Homo sapiens: one gene and its partners. The protein of the gene in region 2 purifies or fractionates together with the protein of the main gene of each other region. This does not show direct contact. Each region holds a gene or a part of one and is shown on either strand. Other genes may lie near its edges.

Region 1 (3,500 bases), on a different chromosome or scaffold from region 2:
TTCGTAAACAGAACTGGAGAAAAATTTTAAAAAATCTGAGCACTAGAGATTAAATTTTAGGGATCAACATAATACTAAGAGATAAAATGTGAGAATGGACAGGTTTTCTACTCTGTTCTTGATAATGTGGAAAAAGTACAATGAGTAGCTTGTTTTGTTGCCATGTTTCTTAGAAAATAGGACCAAACACCATTGAGAAAAATTCAGCATCTGTTACAGGAAAATTAGATACTGGTCCTTAATAGCTGATAGTAGCAACTGTATCTTTATATGCTTTTTAATTTTTATTTTTATGGATATATAATAGTTGTAAATATTTACAGAGTACATGTGATATTTTGATTCAAGCACACAATGAGTAATGATCAAATCAGGGTAAATGGGATATCCATCACCTCGAACATTTATCATTTCCTTCTATTAGGAAACTTCTAATTCTATTCCTCTAGTTATTTTGAAATATACAATAAATTATTGTTAACTATAGTTGCCCTATTGTGCTACTAAACAGTAAATCTTATTCCTTCTCACTGTATTTTTGTACCCATTAACCAGCCTGTCGTTATCCACCCCTCCCCTCTCCCTATCCTAGCCTCTGGTAACCAACATTCTACTTCTATCTTCATGCGATCAACTGTATATGTTAAGCCCTGCTTCTACCCATGGGCTTCATCCAAAAATTCCTCTCACACTAGTGTGCCTTCCTAAACCATCTTTAAAACCATCATTGATTCAATAATTCATCAACTCTGGGAGCTGAAGAAAAATTCTTATACTATGAACTTAAAAAAAGATGATCTGGTAACAGCTTCTGAAAATGTGTGTGTGAGAAATAAGCTAGGAATAGTGAAATACAATTAGCATAGACAGGTTGGTAATTAGGGTCTTCATCATTAATGACAAAGAGTATGAGGAATAATACAAAGTTCAAAGAAAAAAAGAATGAGTAAGAAAACAAATTTTGCCAGTAGTTAAGTCACCCAGCAAAATGGCCCAAAGCACTAATAAGAAAACCAAGTCTTAACTAAATGATTTTATTCACTTCCTACGTCTCTGTCCTTACTCTAATCCTTATGAACCTGAATTAATCAAGTATATAATATTTTTAGATTATATTAATTAAAGGCTATGCTCTATCTCAAAAAAGCAAGACAGTACGAGAGATGTATTTTGTTTCCTTAATAAAGAAAATATCAACAAAACCAACCATATAAATTAAGCATAACAAATATTTAAAATAAAAATCAATAAGCAGTGTTATTTTATGTAAAGACTTAGCTATCACACACAAATACTTTTACACTCTCCACAGAACTATGATACATTACCGTGTTCTCTCTAGTTTGGTATAGAAGCAACCTTGAATAATTTTAACAGCTTTTAATATAGCTAGATATTCTTTGTGTGCTCTCCAACATCTATACCAGGCTTGAATCTTGCAGGCAGCTTTCACTTTACATAAATATTTCTTGGCTCTATATCTCCTCCACATAGCCTATTAAATACATAAATATAACAAGTATGCAATGAGTTGTCTCTTTTTTTTTGTAAATAAGACAAATCAGTATAAAGACAGTTAAAATAAGGTTAGTGCAGACAAAAATAAATTGCATAGTCATATCATGACTCTTTTAGACTTTGACATGTAATGAGTCTTCTGAGAACAGTGGTGCTTACTATAGTGAACACGTATTATGTGCTTTATCACACATACCTTATGGCTGGCTGCCAGCCCAGCCTAACAAAACCCTAACCAGTATTTATAAATTGTAAGACACACATGTCTGAAAAGCCCCACATTATGTAAATTATCCTCATCACCTCAATCCATTTGGAAGAAAAGAAAATGAACACATTGACCTACTGCAGGTTCTGGGGAGAAAGAGGAATTCTTCCCAATCCATATTCACTTTGGGTTCTGTGTTCAGCCTGCAGGAGAATCCTGAGAGCTCCTGTGATAGGACTGTCAGACTTTCTGATTTTGACAACCTTCTGGAAGACTAAAGGTTTACATGACAGCTACAACTTATTGAACTAAGCACTAAGAAGATTAGTCCTTAATAATCACATGGGTAGATAATACTATTATCTCTAATTTAGAGATGAGGAAATCAAGGCCTAGAGAAATTGAGTAACTTGTTGATGTCACACAGGTTAATAAGTGGCAGAGTTGTCTTACTTAATATTTATAAATATCTTATAAAATGGTTAAGATCTCTGTTTTATAAAAAAGGAAAAAAATCCAAAATTGAAATTAAGAAGGACTTGTTAGCATATAGCTGTTAAGTGACAGAGTCAAGATTTGAACCCAAGTCTATTTGACTCCAACATCCCTACAGGAAGAGGAATTAAAAGAAATTAAAGACTGTGTAAGCAAAAACTCAGTTGTATGTAAGAAAACCCAATTCCCCTTGGGAAGAGAAAGGGCTGGAGTCCTTTAAAATTAACTGTGTTTTTCTCTCTGTGGCTAGTGAGCCTTATCTCTCCCTTTCCCAGGCATTGTGAAGACTGTTTCTCTAGCTGTGCAGCTGCAAGGACACTAGACAGATAATCTCAAGTTGTAAAACATGTTGTTCCTTAAAAAGTAAGAAATAATGTAATGCATCTCTTACTTGAATAACTGTCTTTGTTTCTCTCTTCTGTAATACGCTTCCCCCTGCACAGATCTCCCCATGCCCCACGAAATGCTTAAAAGGTAGCTTGACTCTTTGTTCAGGGCTCAGTCCTCTTTGGATGTTAATCCGACTGGGTCGGTGCACATAAATAATTAAATAATTCCTCCTCAAATCCCTCGGTCTCTCTGATTCCTTAATTATCCCGCAGCACAACAAATACTATAGGCACAACGTATATTTAGATTAGGTTCTAAATTCAGTTGATAATGCAATAATTATATATGGCCAAAATTACTCTGAGATGACCTTAACTCATTCAGACTATATTGTATACGGTTTTTATGTAAATCTGCATACATTATTTATGTATATCCCCAATACCTGCCACCTCAGTCTTAATCAGTGGTAGAAGAATGGTCTCAGAACTGTTTGTTTCAATTGGCCATTTAACTGTAACAGTAAAAGACTGGTTAATGGTAACACTGCATCATAAAACCTTCAGGAGGAAAGGAGAATGTTTTGTGGACCATTTTGGTGTTTTTGTTTTTGTTTTGCTTGTGGCAGTTATAAGTTACTAGTTTTTAAAATCAGTACTTTTTAATGAAAACAAATTGACCGAAAATCTGTCACAGAATTTTGAGACCCATTAAAACAAAGTTTTAATGAGAAAATTATATATATGTATAGATATACGTGTGTGTATATATATATTTACAAATATATATATATATACACACACACACATCACACCTGAAGAACATCAAAATTTACAGACATTGACAAGAGAAGCCAACATAGCGTTAAGAGGGAAAGAAGACAGCTAAGAGATTATGGTATCAAGAAACCAAGGGTTGAGAGAAGAAACAAAGTGTGCTTAAATCCCAA
Region 2 (3,500 bases):
TACCACATCCCACCCAAGAGTTCCATCCCTCACTACAGTGCCACAGACACAAGGCCAGACCACAGGTGGGCTCTCAGGATGGATAGACTCCAAGGACATGGAAGTCCAGTGCTCTTCAACTCACTTGTTTCTTTTCTTTCAATTTTATTTTATTTTTTTTGAGACAGAGTCTCGCTCTATCGCCCAGGCTGGAGTGCAGTGGCTCAATCTCACTCACTGCAACCTCCTCCTCCCAGGTTCAAACGATTCTCCTACCTCAGCCTCCCGAGTAGCTGGGATTACAGGTGCCCACACCATGCCCAGCTAATTTTTGTATTTTTTTCAGTAGAGATGGGGTTTCGCCATGTTGGCCAGGCTGGTCTTGAACTCCTGACCTCAGGTGATCCACCCGCCTCTGCCTTCCAAAGTGCTGGGATTATAGGTGTGAGGCACCGCACCCAGCCTATTTTGAATAGGTAATAACATTTCATTTGGTTCAAAATTCCAAAGGCACAAAGGTTGTTGTATAGTGAAGTTTGCTTCCTATTTCTGTCCTCCAGCCACCCAATTCTGCTACCCAGGGCAACTGTGTGTTCTTCCAGGGAAATTCTATTGGTATTCAAGCAAGTAAGACTATACTCCCCCACCTTTTTTACATAAATGGTGGCATACTTTAGACATGGTCCTGCTTTTACTTATCTTAATCCAAATTGCTTTTTGGCATATGGAGTACAGTTGGCCCTCTGTATCCGTGGGTTCTGCTTCTGCAGATTCAACCAACCATCGGTTGAAAATATTCAAGGAGAGTGGGCACAGTGGCTCATGCCTGTAATCCCAGCACTTTGGGGGGCCAAGGTGTGTAGATTACCTGAGGTCCGGAGTTCCAGACCAGCCTGGCCAATATGGTTGAAACCCTGTCTCTACTAAAAATATAAAATTAGCCAGACGTGATGGCCCGTGCCTGTAATCCCAGCTACTCTGGAGGCTGAGGCAGGAGAATTGCTTAGAACCCAGGAGGTGGAGGTTGCAGTGAGCCGAGATTGTGCCAGCCTGGCGACAGAGCGAGACTCGGTCTCAAAAAAAAAAATGAGAAAATATTCATGGAAAATAAAAAATAAAACCAAAAAATACAGTATAACAGTTATGGTCATGTGTCACTTGGCAATGCAGATACATTATCAGAAATGCATTATTGTGGAAACATCATAGAATGTACTTACTGAAACCTAGATGATCTAGCCTGCTACACACCTAGGCTATCTGCGATAGCCTATTGTTCTTGGGCAACAAGCCTGTGTGGCGTGTTACTATACTGAAGCATGGTAGGTAACATAACACAGTGGTAACCATTTGTGTATATAAACATACCTAAACATAGAAAAGGTACAGTTAAAATATAATATAAATGATAAAAAATGGCACACCTGTACAGGGTACTAACCATTAAATGGAGCATGTTTGAATGGAAGTTGCTCTGGGTGAGTTAGTGAGTGAGTGGTGAGTGAATGTGAAGGCCTAGGGCCTTACTGTACACTGCTGTAGACTTTAGAAACATGGTACAGTTAGGCTACATCAAATTTATAAAAAATAGTTCTTTTATAATAAATTAACCTTAGTTTACTATAACTATTTTACTTTATAAACTTAACATTTTTTTTCCCACTTGCCAAGGCTGATGTAACATTTTAATCTTTTTTTAACTTTTTTTTTTCGACCAGTTGTCAAATGATCCTTTATTGAAATATTTTCCTTTGTGCTTAACTAGCTGGGCATTCCACAGCACCACTGTTGATGTCATCTATGATGTCATGAGGGTGGTGGCCATCAACATTACAGCCCATAGACTGGGCAGTCCCCGGAATCTCTTTAATGGTTCCAGAGAGTTCTCTGGCTAAGGATCGGTGCCGCATCTGTCGAGCAATGTTGACGATCTCATCAAAAGTGATATTCCCATTGTGTTTAATGTTTTTCTGTTTCTTTCTGTCTCTTGGTGGTTTCTTGAGGGCTTTGATGATCGGGGCAGAGGCAGAAGGCACCACCTCAATCTGGGCCTGTCTGTTCTCAATGGTCAGTTTCACTGTAATCCTCAGGCCCTTCCAGTCACCCGTTGCCTTGGCAATGTCATCACCAACCTTTTTTGGAGACAGACCCAGGGGGCCGATCTTGGGGGCCAGGGCAGAAGTGGCACCGACTTCACCTCTGGTGCACCTCAGGTATACGACCTTGATCTCGTTGGGGTCGAACTTCGGTGGCATGGTGGAGGCAGCTGGTGTCGGATGAACCCAGATTCAGGATGACCGAAGAAAGTTGCACCTTGGCCTCCTCCGAGCCGAAAGCCGAGAGCTTCTCTCTCTTTTTTTTTTGAGATGGAGTCTCGCTCTGTCGCCCAGGCTGGAGTGCAGTGGCACAATCTCGGCTCACTGCAAGCTCCGCCTCCCGGGTTCCCGCCATTTTCCTGCCTCAGCCTTCCGCGTAGCTGGGACTACAGGCGCCCTCCACCACACTTGGCTAATTTTGTTTTTTTGTATTTTTAATAGAGACAGGGTTTCACCATGTTAGCCAGGATGGTCTCGATCTCCTGACCTCGTGATCTGCCTGCCTCAGCTTCCCAAAGTGTTGGGATTACAGGCGTGAGCCACTGCGCCCGGCTAACTTTTTGACTCTTGTAATAACAACTGAAAACACAAACATTGTATAGCTTTACAGAAATATTTTATTCCTTTATATCCTTATTCCTCATGCTTTTTTTCTATCTAAATTTTGTTTTGGGCGGGGAGCATATATTCAGGGCAATATGAATCTCTGTCTCCTGGCTTGAAAATAAAATTTTTGTTTTTTGTTTTTTGTTTTTGAGACAGAGTCTCGCTCTTTCGCCCAGGCTGGAGTGCAATGGCGTGATCTCGGCTCAGTGTAACCTCCGCCTCCTGGGTTCAAGTGATTCTCCTGCCTCAGCCTCCCGAGTAGCTGGGACTATAGGTGTGTGCCATCATACCCAGCTAATTTTTTGTATTTTTAGTAGAGATGGGGTTTCACCGTATTAGTCAGGATGGTCTCGATCTCCTGACCTCGTGATCCGCCCGCCTCAGCCTCCCAAAGTGCTGGGATTACAGACATGAGTTACTGCGCCCCGCCTGAAATTCTTTTTTTAATTTAAAATTTTATTTATTTGTATTTTTTCCAAGAAATAAGCTTAAATTTGAAAAATTTTAAATATTATTTTGCTTTTCAAACTTTTTGTTAAAAACGAAGAAATATACACATTAGCCTAGGCCTACATAGGGTCAGGATCATCAACATCACTGGCTTTCACCTCCACATCTTGTCTCACTGGAAGATCTTCAGGGGCAGTAACACACATGGAGATGTGACTTCCTGTGATAACAATGCTTTCTTCTGGATTGCCTTTTTTTTTTTTTTTGAGACGGAGTCTCGCACTGTCGCCCAGGCTAGAGTGCAGTGGCATGATCTCGGCTCACTGCAAGCTCCGTCTCCTGGGTTCACACCATTCTCCTGCCTCAGCC
Region 3 (3,500 bases), on a different chromosome or scaffold from region 2:
TTCACCATGTTGGCCAGGCTGGTCTCAAACACCTGACCTCAGAAAATCTACCTGCCTCGGCCTCCCAAAGTGCTGGGAGTACAGGCATGAGCCACCATGGCCAGCCTGTCACACTACTTTTTAATGACAGAGTTATTGTGATAGAAATCATACGTACCGTGGGCTGGGCACAGTGGCTCACACCTGTAATCCTAGCACTCGGGGAGGCCGAGGTGGGTGGATCACCTGAAGTCAGGAGCTTGAGACCAGCCTGGCCAACATGATGAAACCCCATCTCTACTAAAAGTACAAAAATTAGCCAGGCATGGTGGTAGGTGCCTATAATCCCACCTACTCGGGAGGCTGAGGCAGGAGAACGCTTGGACTCTGGGGGGCGGAGGTTGCAGTGAGCCAAGATCGCACCACTTCACTCCAGCCTGGGCAACACAGCGAGACTCTGTCTCAAAAAAAAAAAAAAAAGAAAAGAAAGAAATTGTATGGCCTGCCGAGCTTAAAGTACTGGTCCTTTTGCACAAAAAGTTGGCTGACTCCTGGTCTAGGGCAGTGGTTCTCAACAAGGAGGGTGATTTTGCTGCCTGTAGGACATTCAGCAATGCCTGGAGACATTTTTGGTTGTTACCGTTGGGGGATGGGTGCTCTGGCATCTAGTGGGTAGAGGCCAGGATGCTGCTAAGCACCCTGCAATGCACAGGACGACCTCACACAACAAAGAGTACTAGGCCCAAAATGTCCACATTGTCAAGATTGAGAAACCCTGCTCTAGGGCAGTTTCCTGATTTCACACATGATCTTGTAGAATATACAGGAAGTGCTTAAAGAAGAAAGTAAGGCCAAGCGCAGTGGCTCGTGCCTGTAATCTCAGCACTTTGGGAGGCTGAAGCGGGCAGATCATGAGGTCAGGAGTTCGAGACCAGCCTAAACAACATGGAGAAACCCCGTCTCTACTAAAAATACAAAAATTAGCTGGGCATGGTGGCACGCACCTGTAATCCCAGCTACTTGGGAGGCTGAGGCAGGACAATCGTTTGCACCCAGGAAGCAGAGGTTGCAGTGAGCCGAGATGACACCACTGCACTCCAGCCTGGGAGACAGAGCGAGACTTCATCTCAAAAAAAAAAAAAAAAAAAAGAAAGTAAAAGTCATTCAGTCTTCCCACCCAGAAATTGTTACTACTCAAGTTTTTAATGTATTTTCCTTTGCTTTGTTTGGGTCGGTTTGTTTGTTTGTTTGTTTGTTTTGAGACAGAGTCTTGCTCTGTTGCCCAAGCTGGAGTGCAGTGGTGCGATCTTGGCTCACTGCAACCTCCACCTCCCAGGTTTTCAAGCAATTCTGCCTCAGCCTCCTGAGTAGCTTCGTCTACAGGCGTGTACCATCACCCCTCGCTAATTTTTTTATTTTTAGTAGAGACAAGTTTTCGCCATGTTGGCCAGGCAGGTCTCGGACTCCTGACCTCAAGTGATCCACCCGCCTTGGCCTCCCAAAGTGCTGGGATTACAGGTGTGAGCCACCATGTCTGGCTGCATTTTTTTCTGTGTAAAAATAGTATTGTATTTCTACTCTGTTGGAATTAATGTGCACATATTAGTAACTTAAAGTTTTTCCTGATATTAAAAAGGAAAAATTTGTTCTATTTTCAATAGAAATATATGCCCATCAAAGAAAATACAGATGAACCCCCAAAATGAGGGTCATTACCATCATTAATGTTACCTATAAACCCTGGCATTATTCTTAAGGCTGATGTTATGTATTCCCTTTGTCCTGGTAATACTACACGCAGGTATCTGTCCTGAGAAGATAGACAAGTGCGTACTGATTTATGTTCCTAGCAAAGACGTGCCTGACAGTATTGGCTTATACTGGCAAAAACTGTAACACATCTAGTATCTTTCTCATTAGGGTTCCAGTTAAATTAGTTATGGTAAAGCCCTACTTTTGGCCAGATGCAGCAGCTTACGCCTGTAATCCCAACACTCTGAGAGTCTGAGGCAGAAGGATTGTGTGAGGCCAAGAGTTCAAGAACAGCCTGGGCAACATAGCAAGACCCTGTCTCTATAAAAATTTTTTTTTTTTTTTTTTAGTTAGCCAGGTGTGGTAGGCTCACCTGTAGTTCCAGCTACTTGGGAGACTGAGGAAAGAGGATTTCTTGAGCCCAGAAGTTCAAGGCCAGCCTGGGCAACAGAGTGAGACCTCCGTCTCTACAAAAATATTTTTTAAGTCCCACTTTGGGATATGATGTAGGCATTATAAAGAAAGAAAGAAACCACTAGGTAGGGACAGACAAGTTTAGCAGATGGTGAGTCGAACAGACACGGTTTATATCCCAACTCCGCCGCTCCACAGTTCGTGGCTTGGGGCAGGTTTTGTTTAATTTCCCAGGGTCTGCTCCTCATCTTAAAATGGGCAAGTTTTGTGAGGATTAAATGAAAAAGTCATGTGAAGTGCTCATTACAGACTACCACATAGTACTTGCTCAGTAAATGTTACCAGCTTTATTGTCAAGTAAACAAGGTTACAGAATGCTATATATATAGTATATTCCTCCCTATGGTTTTTTTTTTTTTTTTTTGAGACAGAGTCTCGCTCCGTCACCCAGGCTGTTGTGCAATAGCACGATCTCGGCTCACTGCAAGCTCCACCTCCCGGGTTCACTCCATTCTCCTGCCTCAGCCTCCCGAGTAGCTGGGACTACAGGTGCCTGCCACCACTCCCGGCTAATTTTTTGTATTTTTAGTAGAGACGGGGTTTCACCATGTTAGCCAGGATGGTCTCAATCTCCTGACCTCATGATCTGCCCGCCTCAGCCTCCCAAAGTGCTGGGATTACAGGTGTGAGCCACTGCACCCAGCCCCTGTTTATGTTTTACAAAGTGGGCATGTGGCTGGGTGCAGTGTTGCACACCTGTAATCCCAGCACTTTGGGAGGCCGAGGCACATGGATCGCTCAAACTTAGGAATTCGAGACCAGTCTGGGCAACATGGTGAAACCCTACGTCTACAAAAAGTTAGGTGGGTGTGGTGGCATGCACGCCTGTAGTCTGCTTCTTGGGAGGCTGAGGTAGGAGGATCGCGTGAGCCTGGGAGGTCAAGGCTGCAGTGAGCCCAGATTGCGCCACTGTATTCCAGCCTAGGCCACAAAGTGAGACCCTGTCTCAAACAAAACAAACAAACAAAAAAAATTGGGCATGTGTTTAAAGAAGTATAAAAAAGTAACAAGAAACAGAGGCTATCTCTGGGGGAGTAAGAGTATGGAGAGACGTTTGCTTTCTGTTTATTATAGGTTCATTTGAGTATTTTAGAATGAACAAGTATGATTTAATTCATGGAGATGGGGGGAAGTCACCCATATTCCTGTCCTCATCATTGGGCTTTTGGTTTGGTTTGGTAAATAAGGCTGTTGGCCAGGAGGGTGCTGGGCTCACACTCTGTCCCTCTGTCACACTGCAGCCATGGACCTGGCTCAGGCAGGCAGCACAGTGGAATCTAAGATCTACGACACAC
Region 4 (3,500 bases), on a different chromosome or scaffold from region 2:
GACAACAATAGCAACACAATAACTATTACTACAGTACATCGTCAAGGCTCAGGTCAAATGTGCCTCTCTACAAAGCACACCCTGAACTTTCTATCTGGAAGAAACCATTTTCTCCTCTGAATTCCTATTTTAACTGTCATCTCTCTCAGAACACTTCTGTCCATTTTCTATTATTCACACATATATTGTCTCCCATACCAGACTTTGAGTTAACTAAAAGCAAAATCCACTTCCGATAAGTCTCTTTATCACCTGCAGTTCCTAATATGATGCCCTGCTCATAATATCTACCCAAACTTTTGTGTGAATGGGTGGATATCTGGTCATGAGCAGTACACTTCTGCCAGCACACATAGCCTCAACCTTACCACAACATCTTCCAAAATCTTAGTAGGGCAAGGTCTGGAATGAAATTCAAAGTGTTCATCCTCTGTTTTCTTCTTTGATTCTCGCTCCTGGATTCTTTTCTCAATTTCCAAATCAAAGCCAATAGGCTCGGTGGGTGGTTTCACAGGTGGTTTCTTGGGCAAGATGGGCCCACCTTCAAGTATTCTGGGATCAAGTTCACGTGCTTTGAATTTGTATCTGTAAGGTGAAAATTTAAATAACCACAAAAAAAATTTTAATAAAATGAAAACTTCACAAACAAAGTAAGCCAACCACAAAGAATAGTAATCATTAAGATTATGCTCCCATTGACTGGACAACAGAATAAAATAAATAAAAACGAAAAACAATGGGCCAGGCACGGTGGCTCATGCCCGTAATCCCAGCACTTTGGGAAGCCAAGGTGAGCAGATAATTTGAGGTCAGGAGTTCAAGACCAGCCTGGCCAACACAGTGAAACCCCATCTCTACTAAAAATACAAAAATTAGCTGGGCGTGGTGGTGCACACCTGTAATCCCAGCTACTAGGGAGGCTGAGGCAGGAGAATCTCTTGAACCCAGGAGGCGGAGGTTGCAGTGAGCTTAGAGGCACCACTGCACTCCAGCCTGAGCAACAAGAGCGAAACTCCATCTCAAAAAAAATAAATAAATAAAAAATAATAAAAGAATAAAAGAAGAAAGAATAAATCAGACAGTCCTAACATCCCTACCACTTAAGAATTGAGGCTTCACTTCACAGAAGAAGCTCCCCCTCCTCAAAAGAAGCACAAAAAGGAATGGAAGAAGGATACAGGAAATAAACTCCAATGCTACGAATCACACTAAGTTTCCATTTCCCTCCACTAATAATAGCTGTAACAATCCCTTGGGGAGTCACAAAAGGGTGGGATCTACCTAACTTAACCTTAGAGGGCATTCCTTAATTGAAATCCTAAGTAAGTTCTTCTACTGCAACCTCTGGATTAGATTTTGTGTGTGTGTGTGTGTGTGTGTGTGTGTGTGTGTGTGTGTGTATGTGTGTATGTGCAAGACAGTCTCGCTTTGTCACCCAAGCTGGAGTATATTGGCGTGATCTTGGCTCACTGAAGCATTGACCTCCTGGGTTCAGGCTGCCCCCTAGTAGGTGGGACTACAGACGCATGCCACCATGCCCAGCTAATTTTTTTTTGGTATTTGTTGTAGAGATGGGGTTTCACCATGTTGCCCAGGCTGGTCTCAAACTCCTGGACTCAAGTGATCCTCTTGCCTCGGCCTCCCAAGGTACTGGGATTACAGGTGTGAACCACCACACCCAGCCTGGATTCAATTTTTACCAGTTTATACTCCAGAACATCTCCATATTCCCACTATAGTCCTTAAATCATATAGGCAGGGGCGTAGCCTGCAGAGCCTACTACTCAAATGCCATAAATTTTTACGGAAAGAAAAATAGCAACTGTCACCCTAACAGAACTGAAAATAAAGTAGGCAGGTTCGTGGAACTCTTCCTCAGATACTGCCAGTGGGACTTACTGTTGCAATTTCTCGAGCTCCTCAGCCTCCAGCTCTGCTGTACTTTTGCAGGTCACAGCCCGTGCACGGTGTTTGGTTTGCAGTACAGGAGTCTGTGGGTCTCTGCAAATCTTGGTCACAGAAGATTTGGAGGGTAACAGGTCTGTAAACAGAGATGACAGATGTTCATCTAGATCCGCAAGACCCAGTTTACTTGTAAGTGGTGATTCACCTATGTAGCCCAGAGAGGGATAAACCAACCACAGAGTGGTGGGCCCACAACAGTCAGCTCAGCTTACATTGGTCAAACCAACCAACATTCAGTTACTTCTCCCCTATTCCTCTTTTATTGAGGGGTATGACTAAGGTAGCCTTTGGGTAAACTCTACTGTCATCTTCTGAACTGAAAATCCATCCATGTCTGACAGGTTCCTTATCACTGCACGGGCCTAGACTGACTTTCTTTTTTTTGAGACAGGGTCTCACTCTGTTGCCCAGGCTAGAGTGCAGGGGCATAAAGGCTCACTACAAATCCAACCTCCCTGGACTCAGGTGATCTTCCCACCTCAGCCTCCCAAGCAGCTGGGATTACAGGCATGCACCACCATGCCCAGCTAATTTTTATATTCTTTGTAGAGACAGGGTTTCACTATGTTGCCCAGGCTGGTCTTGAACTACTGGGCTCAAGCAATCCACCCACCTCAGCCTCCCAAAGTGCTGGGATTATAGGCGTTAAGCCACTGTGCCTGGCCAGGCCTATACTTTCTATTGACAATGCCAATTATTTTGCTTGTTATTAACACAAAAAATTTTTGCTTATTCCAGCTTTAAGATATAAGGCCTTCCTGGCCGGTCACAGTGGCTCACGCCTGTAATCCCAGCACTTTGGGAGGCCGAGGCAGGGGGATCACGAGGTCAGGAGATCGAGACCATCCTGGCTAACACGGTGAAATCCCGTCTCTATTAAAAATACAAAAAATTAACCGGGCGTGGTGGCAGGCGCCTGTAGTCTCAGCTACTCGGGAGGCTGAGGCAGGAGAATGGCATGAACCTGGAAGGCGGAGCATGCAGTGAGCCAAGTGAGCCAAATGAGCGCCACTGCACTCTGGCCTAGGCGACAGAGCGAGACTCTGTCTCAAAAAAAAAAAAAAAAAAAAAGATATAAGGCCTTCCTAAAGACCAAGTAAAGCCTGAACAGAATGGCTCAAACCTGTAATTCTAGCAATTTAGAAGGCCAAAGCAGGAGAACTGCTTGAGGCCAGGAGCTCAAGACCAGCCTGGGCAACATAATGAGACCCTGTCTCCTAAGAAAATATAAAAATTAGGTAAGCATGGTGGCATGCACCTATATATAGTCCCAATTACTTGGAAGGCTAAGGCAGGAGGATTGCTTGAGCCCAGGAGTTGGACACTGAAGTGAGCCATGATCACGCCACTGCACTCCAGCCTGGGTGACGGAGCAAGACCCTGTCTCTAAAAAGCAAAACAAGAAGGAAAATAAATAAATAAATAAATAACAAAAGAAGACCAAGTGAAAACTCCCAATTTTATGAAATCAATATAAAAGCATCAAGACCACATCTTACAGAAAATCAAATGGAGAAAGTTAAAAACTATGTTAA

The links. The genes of interacting proteins can lie anywhere in the genome.
Region 1: the proteins of KIFC1 (region 2) and ASPM purify together in Homo sapiens (pull-down; one study listed by IntAct). This does not show direct contact.
Region 3: the proteins of KIFC1 (region 2) and RRP12 purify together in Homo sapiens (affinity purification with mass spectrometry, with the first as the bait; one large-scale study listed by BioGRID). This does not show direct contact.
Region 4: the proteins of KIFC1 (region 2) and TPX2 purify together in Homo sapiens (affinity purification with western blotting, with the first as the bait; one study listed by BioGRID). This does not show direct contact.

The regions. Positions count from the first base shown.
Region 1 is NC_000001.11:197,094,670-197,098,169, forward strand, and holds part of ASPM (abnormal spindle-like microcephaly-associated protein), read right to left. Parts: intron 1,496-3,500; coding exon 1,329-1,495; intron 1-1,328. UniProt on the Homo sapiens protein: Involved in mitotic spindle regulation and coordination of mitotic processes.
Region 2 is NC_000006.12:33,398,323-33,401,822, forward strand, and holds part of KIFC1 (kinesin-like protein KIFC1), read left to right. Parts: coding exon 1-65; intron 66-1,689; exon of another isoform or gene 1,690-2,322; intron 2,323-3,500. UniProt on the Homo sapiens protein: Minus end-directed microtubule-dependent motor required for bipolar spindle formation. May contribute to movement of early endocytic vesicles. Regulates cilium formation and structure.
Region 3 is NC_000010.11:97,373,841-97,377,340, reverse strand, and holds part of RRP12 (RRP12-like protein), read left to right. Parts: intron 1-3,446; coding exon 3,447-3,500.
Region 4 is NC_000020.11:31,780,790-31,784,289, reverse strand, and holds part of TPX2 (targeting protein for Xklp2), read right to left. Parts: intron 2,042-3,500; coding exon 1,900-2,041; intron 586-1,899; coding exon 369-585; intron 1-368. UniProt on the Homo sapiens protein: Spindle assembly factor required for normal assembly of mitotic spindles. Required for normal assembly of microtubules during apoptosis. Required for chromatin and/or kinetochore dependent microtubule nucleation.